Regions from separate parts of the Homo sapiens genome. Here region 1 is linked to region 2. The links come from fine-mapping of genetic effects on gene expression. A gene starts in region 2. The other region holds a variant in brackets. All regions are shown on one strand. Distances are between the middles of the regions. Region 1 overlaps FAM193A (family with sequence similarity 193 member A). Region 2 holds the start of FAM193A (family with sequence similarity 193 member A).

Region 1 (4,382 bases), 160 kb before region 2:
AGATACGACATGGGATCCTGGATTGGATCCCATGTCAGGAGAAACAACAAGAGCTTTTTTTTTTTTTTTTTGCTATAAAGGATGTTAAAAGGACAATTGGAGAAACATGAGTAAGGTCTACAATTAGAGAATAGCATTGGATCAGTGTCAACTTCTTCATTTTGATCACTGTACTGTGGTTTTATAAGTGTCTTTATCTTGAGGAAATATACATGGAAGTATTTTAGGTTAAAGGGGTATCATGTATGAAGTGACTCTCCTTCTGTCCAGAAAAATAAGAGAGAGAGGGAGAGAGAGAATAACGAAGCAAACATGGGAAATACTGATGTTGGGGAACTAAAGTTGGGGAACTGGAGGGGGTAGAAATCCTCTCTCTCTCTATATGTATTTTTTGAGATGGAGTCTCTCTGTCACCCACGCTGGAGTGCAACGGCATGATCTTGGCTCACTGCAATCTCTGCCTCCTGGGTTCAAGCGATTCTCCTGCCTCAGCCTCCCCGAGTAGCTAGGATTACAGGTGCACCACCAAGCCCAGCTAATTTTTTTTTGTTATTTTTAGTAGAGACAGGGTTTCAGCATGTTGGCCAAGCTGGTCTCGAACTCTTAACCTCTGGTGATCTGCCCACCCTGGCCTCACAAAGTGCTGGGATTACAGGTGTGAGCCACCATGCCTGGCCCCTCTACGCTCTTTTCTACAGGAGGGAGGCCACATGGCGAGAGCATGCCAAACCCAGTGTTTTCCTATACTAGCACATCACACATGGAAAACCAGGCATCGCTCAGAAATACCTTCCCGCTATTCTGTATTTACCAATTGAATTGTTGACTCTGTCTCCTTTCTTCTTCTTATTTTTCTTGTTCTTGCCCTTTGGCTGAGGGGACTCTGCCAGCACCAGCTTGCTGTTCTGCTGATGCTCACCGGGAGAGGTGGGCTCCATAGGGGTTGGGTTTGACTTTTCGTCCTTGATGTGGTTCAGCTGCTTTTTGTTATTGTTATTACTGTTGACTTTTCTCTCCTCTCTTTTCTGCTCTGTGATGGACATGAGGTCGACCACCTTAGCCTTTGACTCAGTCTGGGCCCGGGGCTTGGACTGCCCCTCTGTGGCCTTGGGGGGCTCTGTGGGCCTCCTCGCTGGCTCGCTGCTGGCCTTGCTGGTCTGCCTCAGCTTCTGCTTGCCATTTCCTTCTTTATGGTGCTGCATGATGTCGAAGAAAAAAGAGAGTGGCTCATGCTGCTTCCCATTCACCTCCTTGGGGAGGAGAAATTTGGAGTCTCTGGTGTCGACGGGGTCTGCAGCATCCCCATCAGCCCCTAGCCCTGGCCTGGGCTCTGAGTGGTTCATATGCCTGGATGGGGAGTGAGAAGAGGTTTCTGGTTCTTCAGTTTGCTCTAGTGAGCCATTGTGGATGTTTCCAGAGTTAGGAACAGACTCTGTTGCTGCCTGGAAATTTCTAGTGAGCATGTCCAACTTGGGGCAGTCTTTACTTGGCCTCTCCTTCTTCTTCTTTTTTACAGCTCTTAGCTTCTGAAGCTCCTGAAGCCGCTGAAATTCCTCCTTGAAACGATCCTCCTCTTCTTCCTCATCCTCCTCCTCCTCCCGCCGCCTCTGCTCCTCCTGGAGGTGCAGGTGCTCCCGGGCCCTGGCCTCTGCTTCTAGGCGAGCTTTCTCCTCCAGCTGCCAATGCAAAAAGAAGGCAATTTAAGACTACAGTGAGTGCTAAAAATTAAGTCATACAGAAAAACTAAGATAATTTCAAAAACGAATCACATATGGAACATAAACTCTGAAGAGGCTGTAATAAATCAAAACTTAACACACACCCACCTCCAATTCTCTTACTCTGCAGGATTGTTAAACTTCATCTATTTACTAAAGTATATGCTTACTTATTTGTGTGTGTGTGTGTGGGGGGGGGGGTGGTAGTTAACAAAAAATTCCCGATAGCCTTTGACCTGGTACTAAACACAGTAACCAAGGACAAAGCAGCTGCAAAGCACACATCCAGGGAGTCAGCTACCCCCTCACAGGTGCGGCAGGGCATCATGCCGCCTGGCCGAGTGGATGATGTAACCAATACCACAGACTGCCCGGGCAGTACTGAGGCTGTACACGTGCCGCCAGAACTCTGAGCAAACCCACCTTTCCAGGCGAAGGCTAATGCATTCACTTGAACAGGGAATGTAAGAAATGTGTACCAGGCTGGTGCAGTGGCTCACACCTGTGATCCTAGGAGTTC[A/G]AGAGCAGCCTGGGCAACATGGCAAAACCCCGTCTCTACAAAAAGTATCAAAATTAGCTGGATGTGAGGGCGCACGACTGTGGTCCCAGCTATTTGGGAAGCTGAGGTTTGAGAATCGCTTGAAGCCAGGAGGTTGAGGCTGCAATGAGCTGTGATGGCACCACAAAAAGCAATGTGTAGTAAAGAACTAGAAATTCCTTCTTCCCACCCTAGCAGATAAACAGAAGTGCCATATATTTTCACTAGTGTGACAGATGTGACAGAGCAAATGACTCACTGTCCAACTTGATGGAAAATTAATTTTCATCCCAAGTAAAGACAGCATTTGAGTAGTGATGCACACAAACTCCAGGGGCACAAATGGAAACTGTTCTTTGTGTTCAGAAAGCAGATGAGAGTCATCAGTGTTAGGAGCACGGCTCCACCCACCACCAACCTTTAGAAATGCTGGGGCTTATGAGAAACTCTGCCAAAAGCATTTCTCCTAGAGAAATAGAAAAGTACTCCCCAAGTGTAAATTATTTTTCACAATATTTTAAACAGGCAAATTGACTTGTCTTTTGAAAAACTTAAAAATTATGATAAAAATTTAACAATGGTATGTTATTAAAAATTTCATTTGACAATTCAAGTAAAAATTATTTAACATCCTTCTCCATGTGTATGTCAGGAGCAGCACCCAGCAGCCACCTCGTGGATGGGTCCTGCAGTCCAGTGTCTAGAGTGAGCTGTGGGCCTGCACGGGAGCAGAGGAGAGACCAACTCCATCAGGACACTCGCTGGCACACACTGGCCAGTTGGCATCCTCTCAGAGCTGATCTAAATCCAGCACACGTGCCTTGTCAATATATGGACAAATAACAAGCATGTAAAGGCAGGTGCCCTGGTCTCCAGCAGAACGGCTGCCCCAGCACAGGCCCCCGGTTTGGACCTGCTACGGGACAGAGTCCATAGGTCAACTATTGCTGTCCCTTCAACAACCAGCCAGCCAGTGAGCCTCAACACACATCTGTGAGCTGCTCTGTAAAATGGGTGCAGCGTAGAAAGCACCAGGAGGTGGTCCCTCGAGGTGGGACTGGGTGCTGGGCAGGGCCTATGACATCAGCCTCTAAGGTTCAGCTGGGCCTCAAGTCTGGATTCAGACCACCTGCAAGGTCAGAGGGCAAGAGCCTGGGGTGGAGAGTACCCTGAAAACTCAGGAAGGCGTCCCAGAGGCCTCCAGTGAATCCCAATGGGACGTCTCAGGGCCTTGGACCATCGTGGGTACCCCGATGCTGGACGCTCCTGAATGGAGGACACACTGTGTTCTCTGCACTCCAGCAGTCTCTAGTCTTCTGGGGCACGGGACAAGGCTTCTCCCCCAAAGCCTCCCAATCAGGCCCAATAGTCAGTCTAAATCTACTGTAGGACTGCGAGGTATGAGCAGAGCTCTTGAGGGTAGAACAATCACAACAGCTAAGATACAAGTAACAACACAGGACATCGGGCCCACCCTCTGGTCCACTGTGGGATCGTCCTCTTCCTCACCTTTTTGCCTGACCATGCTGCAGACAGAAACCTGGCCTCTTCCCAAGACCACTGTCCTACTGTCAGAACCCCAGGAACCTACAAGTTCCCTCTGCATGCAGCCCACATCTGCTCACTGAGGTCTGGTTCTTGGAGCCTGACACTTTTAGGGAGCTGAAACCAGAAGGCTCTTTGGAACTGCTCCAGCATAGGGGCATTTAGACAATCCTCCAAGAGAAAAAAGTTGTCTTTTTTTTTGAGACAGTCTCACTCTGTCACCCAGGCTGGAGGGCAGTGGCATAATCTCGGCTCACTGCAACCTCCACCTCTGAGGTTCAAGTGATCCTCCCACCTGAGCCTCCTGAGTAGCTGGGACTACAGGCGTACACCACCATGACTGGCTAACGTTTTTTGTATTTGACATTTGCTTTTTGTGACACACCATGCCCTCTGGTAAGGAGGGAACTGCTCATGTCTTCCCATGAAGACTTATTTTCCTCCCCTCTAATCAATGCCATGTGCTGGTCTTCATCTGGAACAGCAGTGGGACAAGAGCAGCATGGGGGACATGCTCAGACCTGAGTCCAGAAGACTTCCCTGTGCCAAGTGCCCCGCCCCAGTCTCATATCAAAGACACT
Region 2 (4,382 bases):
ACCCGACAGCAGCAAACACTGCCCTTAAAAACCCCAAAGATCCAAACGCTCAAGACTCATCCTTGATCCCAAGAACTGCGGCCTGTTTTGATCTCCAGGATACTGGATGAGGGCAATCTCGGGAGACTGAAGTCCAGGACTACAGCCCAAGACCCTAATGTAACAATATAATAATAATAAAAACGGCCGGGCGCGGTGGCTCACACCTGTAATCCCAGCACTTTGGGACGCCAAGGTGGGCGGATCACCTGAGATCACGAGTTCGAGACCAGCCTGGCCAACATGGTGAAACCCTGTCTCTACAAAAATTAGCCGGGCATGGTGGCGCATGCCTGTAGTCCCAGCTACTCGAGAGGCTGAGGCAGGAGAATCGCTTGAACCCGGGAGGCGGAGGTTACAGTGAGCCAAGATCGCGCCATTATTGCACTCCAGCCTGGGCGACAGAGCGAGACTCCGTTCTCAAAAGAAAAAAAAAAAAAGAACAATTTGTGTCATGATTTAGCACAAAAATACTCCCAACGCTTCTTTCATTTTTTAATTGCAATATCTTTAAAACTACATAATTTAAGAGTTTAAATAACATTATAAGAACGCAACTTTTCAAAAAAAATCTATTCTCTTTCAGCAGACAATGGGATAACTGGAAATGACTGCGCCAATTGCATACCCACTTATAAATAGTGTACCCTCTGAAATGTTGTGACCAACGGTTGAATAAAAGTGGCAGGAATCCATAATTGGTAGGTGCAATGTGTGCTAGCTGTCTTCATAAACAAAACTGAAAAAAATCACCTTTCAAATTCCTTAAGTTCGAACCCTAAATACATACCTGAGTAACCAAACCACTAAATACCCCTGAAAACTTAACAAAGCGGGGGAGGAGGGGCCAGGGCTGCCAGCTCCAGGTGGCTGTCAGGTAGATTTCAAATAACCACATAGGAGGACCAAAGGAAAACTTCCGGGAGGCCCTTCTCAATCATCACGCGCACGGAATAACGAAGGTGGCCAGAGAAACATTTCAAAGCCCTGGGAGCGAAAGGGCAGCTTTGCTCACTCCCGGAATCGCAGTCGCTCTGGAACCGCCGCAGCGGGCGAGGCGCCACGACAGAAGCCCGGGCCTCGCGGGTATCACCCGCCGGGTCCAGCGGAAGGCGAAGCGCCGTGCGCGGAGCTGCACCCCGGAGACGTCCCCGCCCGTTGAGGGGCTGCTCCAGCCTGCGGACCAGCCCGTCGCCGTGAGCGGCGGCCCCGGTGTAGCCCTCCCGCCGCCTCTGCTCAGGTTCTCCTCTCAAGAGGCTGACAGAGGCCGCGTCACGCCGAGCACGGCCCACCTGCCGCCCTGCCCCGGGACCTCGGCAAGCGCAGCGCCGCAGGACCCGTTATCCGCCCGCCCGCAGCATCCCGCTCCCAGGCCCGGGGCCGACAGCGGGAGGCCGAGCTCCGCCAAGGCGCGAGGGAACGGCAACCGCGTACCGCCATCGACCCCTGCCCGCTGCCGCCGCTTACCTCGAAGTAGCCTCCGGGGGCGGCGCCGCCCGCGCTCGCGCCCGCGCCGAGAGGCCCGTTGGCCGCCGCCGCGCCGCCCACCAGGCCTGCCGCGCTGCCCGGGGCCGCCAGGCCCGCGGCCTGGGAACCGCGCAGCGCCGCCGCCGGGCCGGCCTTGCCGCTGCTCGCGCCGCCGTTACCCCCGCCCGAGCCGCCGCCGCCGCCCCGCTTGTTCTTCCGGCGCTTGGCCCCGCGCTTGGCGTCGGCTGGGCTCATGGCGGGCGGGGAGAGGGGCGCAGAGCGGGCGCGGGGGCCGCGGGCGGCGGCGGAGGGCGGGGAAGGCGGGGAGGCTGAGGCGGCCGCGGCGGCGGGCGCTCCGGCCAGCCGGGGGGCGCTGCGCGGGGTCGCGTCCGGGTCGGGGAGGGCTGGGGCGGGCGGGAGCTGCGGGGCAGGCCGCTGGGCGGGAGGAACCGCGAGTCCACAGTCCCGGCGCCGCGGCTGACCAGAGTTAGAGTCCAATATGGCGGACACAAGGGGAAAGGGATCCCAGTTTACGTCGGGGGAGGGGGAAGGAGCAGCGGGGAGGGGGAGGGGTGTGGGCCCCCACCCCCCACCCCCACCCCGCCTTACTCCGCCCCCCGGCTCTGCTTTTCCCTTTGCTTGCCCACCCCCTCCTGCCGTTAACGTGCCTCGGCGCGCAGGACACGCCGGGAACTGAAGTCCGTGCTGCCCGTGCAGCAGCTGGGGGTACCCGGGGGTGGACCACGATTCCCGTCAGGCCTTGCGAGGCCGAGGGCCCGGGCGCTGGGAGGAGCTGGGGCCAGGGAGCTGGATGCGGCGGTGATGTCACCGCCTCGCTCGTCGCCGCAGGTCCCGCCCGCGCCGCGCGGCCTTCTGGGCGTTGTGGTCGGGCGTAGGGCTAGGCCGGCAGGAGGCCGCGCCGCCGCCCGCGAGGCAAACTACACGGCTGGCGGCAGGGAGTTCCGCCTCTCTGACCGGTGTCCGCTGCCCGCCCGCCCCGCCCGCCTCGCCCGCGCCCCTGTCCGCCGCCCAGGTGCCGCAGACCGGCGCGGCTCCCGGGATGCACCAGGGGCGGCGCGGCGCGGCCCTGGCCTCGCCAGGAACGCCCGGTGACCTTGGGCTAGTCTAGTTCTGGTCCAGATGACTCAGTGAGGACCACAGAATCCCTGCCTCGTGGGCTGGGCGGGGGTTCGGGCAGCGCTGGAAAGCCGGGCGCGGTGCGGTGGGGTCCGCCTGGGTGCGGAGGCAGCGGCGGAGCCGGCGAATCTTGGACCGGGCCTGGGGCTGGGACACGCCGGTCGGTTCCCCGAGAACCCCTCGCCTAAAGGGTGCTCTTCCCGAGCCCGCCCTCTCCCTGCTATCCCGTTAAGCCCTCTCCAGTGGTCCCGGTGCCTTGCTAATCCACGGGGCCCTAGGACGATCCGGCCGTGTCCCACACCCTCGCACTCACGCACCTCGGGGACGACTAGCCGGGTCAGACCCTCGCAGACGTCCAGATCAGAAATAAGGGCTTGCGTCTGGACCCTCCTCCCTCCGCGGCCTTGCAGACATCTGCGAGCCCCAGGCAGAGCTCTGCCCTGAGACCCGGGCCACGGGGGGACCCTGCCGGCGGCTCCGCCCCCTGGAGGGCCCCGCTTACCACAGACACAGAGGCACAAAGGACATGATTTCCCCTTTTTGGTTCCACCGGTGGTGTCAGGCCGAGAGGCGGCGGGCTTGGCATTGGGATGTACGGCCTGCCAGGCTCCCCTTGCAGCGTTAACCGAGCTCTACTGTTCGTCCTGGGTCCCCGCAACCCGCCCCAGCTGCAGCCACAGCCTCCTGATCCTCTGACCCATTCTTCATGACACAAGCAGAAATCTCATGTGATCAGAAGAAAGCTACCCTTAAAGCCATTCAGATACCATCCTAGACGAAAAAAGGCCCCCCGCCCCATCAGGGTCTTGGATGATCCTGCCACTGAACATGGATTTTGAGAGAGCGGGTAGGAATGCGTTTCTGGCCTCTTTTTCAGTGTCATAGGCTGTCCCTGCCCCTTGCCTCAACCCCTGTCCTTTCCTTTGTCATAGCACATTGCACAGGATTGGGATTCATGATGTCACCAGTATCCCCAAAGACAAAAGGTTTTATTGGGCAGGAGAGAACCTGAGAATGCCTGCCTCACACACCTCTGACACCCAAGCTACTGCAAAGCAAGAGGCTGAGCACCCAGCACTCTACTATTTGCTGAATCAATGAATGACAATAATGACCATTAGGCCTGGGTGCCTTGGCTCATGCCTGTAATCCCAGCAGTTTGGGAGGCCGAGGTGGGCGGATCACCTGAGGCCGGGAGTTCAAGACAGCCTGGCCAGCAAAGCGAAACCCCGTCTCTACTACAAATACAAAAATTAGCTGGGCATGGTGGCACACACTTGTAATCCCAGCTACTCGGGAGGCTGAGGCAGGAGAATCGCTTGAACCCGGGAGGCAAGGGTTGCAGTGAGCCGAAATAGTGCCATTGCACTCCAGCTTGGGCAACGAGCAAAACTCCGTCAAAAAAAAAAGAGGCCGGGCACAGTGTGGCTCTCGCCTGTAATCCCAGCACTTTGGGAGGCCGAGGTGGGGCGGGTCATGAGGTCAGGAGATTGAGACCATCCTGGCTAACACGGTGAAACCCCGTCTCTACTGAAAATACAAAAAATTAGCCGGGCCTGGTGGCGGATGCCTGTAGTCCCAGCTACTCAGGAGGCTGAGGCAGGAGAATGGCGTGAACCTGGGAGGCGGAGCTTTCGGTGAGCCCAGATCAAGCCACTGCACTCCAGCCTGGGCCACAGAGCGAGACTCCGTCTCAAAAACTCAAAACAAAACGAAAGAAAGAAAAGAATAAAAATAAT

Evidence for each region.
Region 1: its variant is fine-mapped to the expression of FAM193A in whole blood (INTERVAL, PIP 0.97).

The regions. Positions count from the first base shown.
Region 1 is chr4:2,696,974-2,701,355 of GRCh38, reverse strand. It overlaps FAM193A (family with sequence similarity 193 member A), which reads right to left. Exons shown (of 21, transcript NM_001366318.2): 19 at 812-1,676. Among named protein-coding and RNA genes, the nearest start is that of TNIP2, 57 kb to the left of the region's middle. RefSeq lists an enhancer at 4,252-4,382. The variant A/G (reference allele first, on the strand shown) is at 2,239.
Region 2 is chr4:2,534,295-2,538,676 of GRCh38, reverse strand. FAM193A (family with sequence similarity 193 member A) reads right to left here and starts at 2,030. Exons shown (of 21, transcript NM_001366318.2): 1 at 1,507-2,030. The coding sequence starts at 1,761. RefSeq lists silencers at 1,027-1,076, 821-1,115, 1,117-1,276, 1,327-1,616, 1,697-1,796 and 3 more.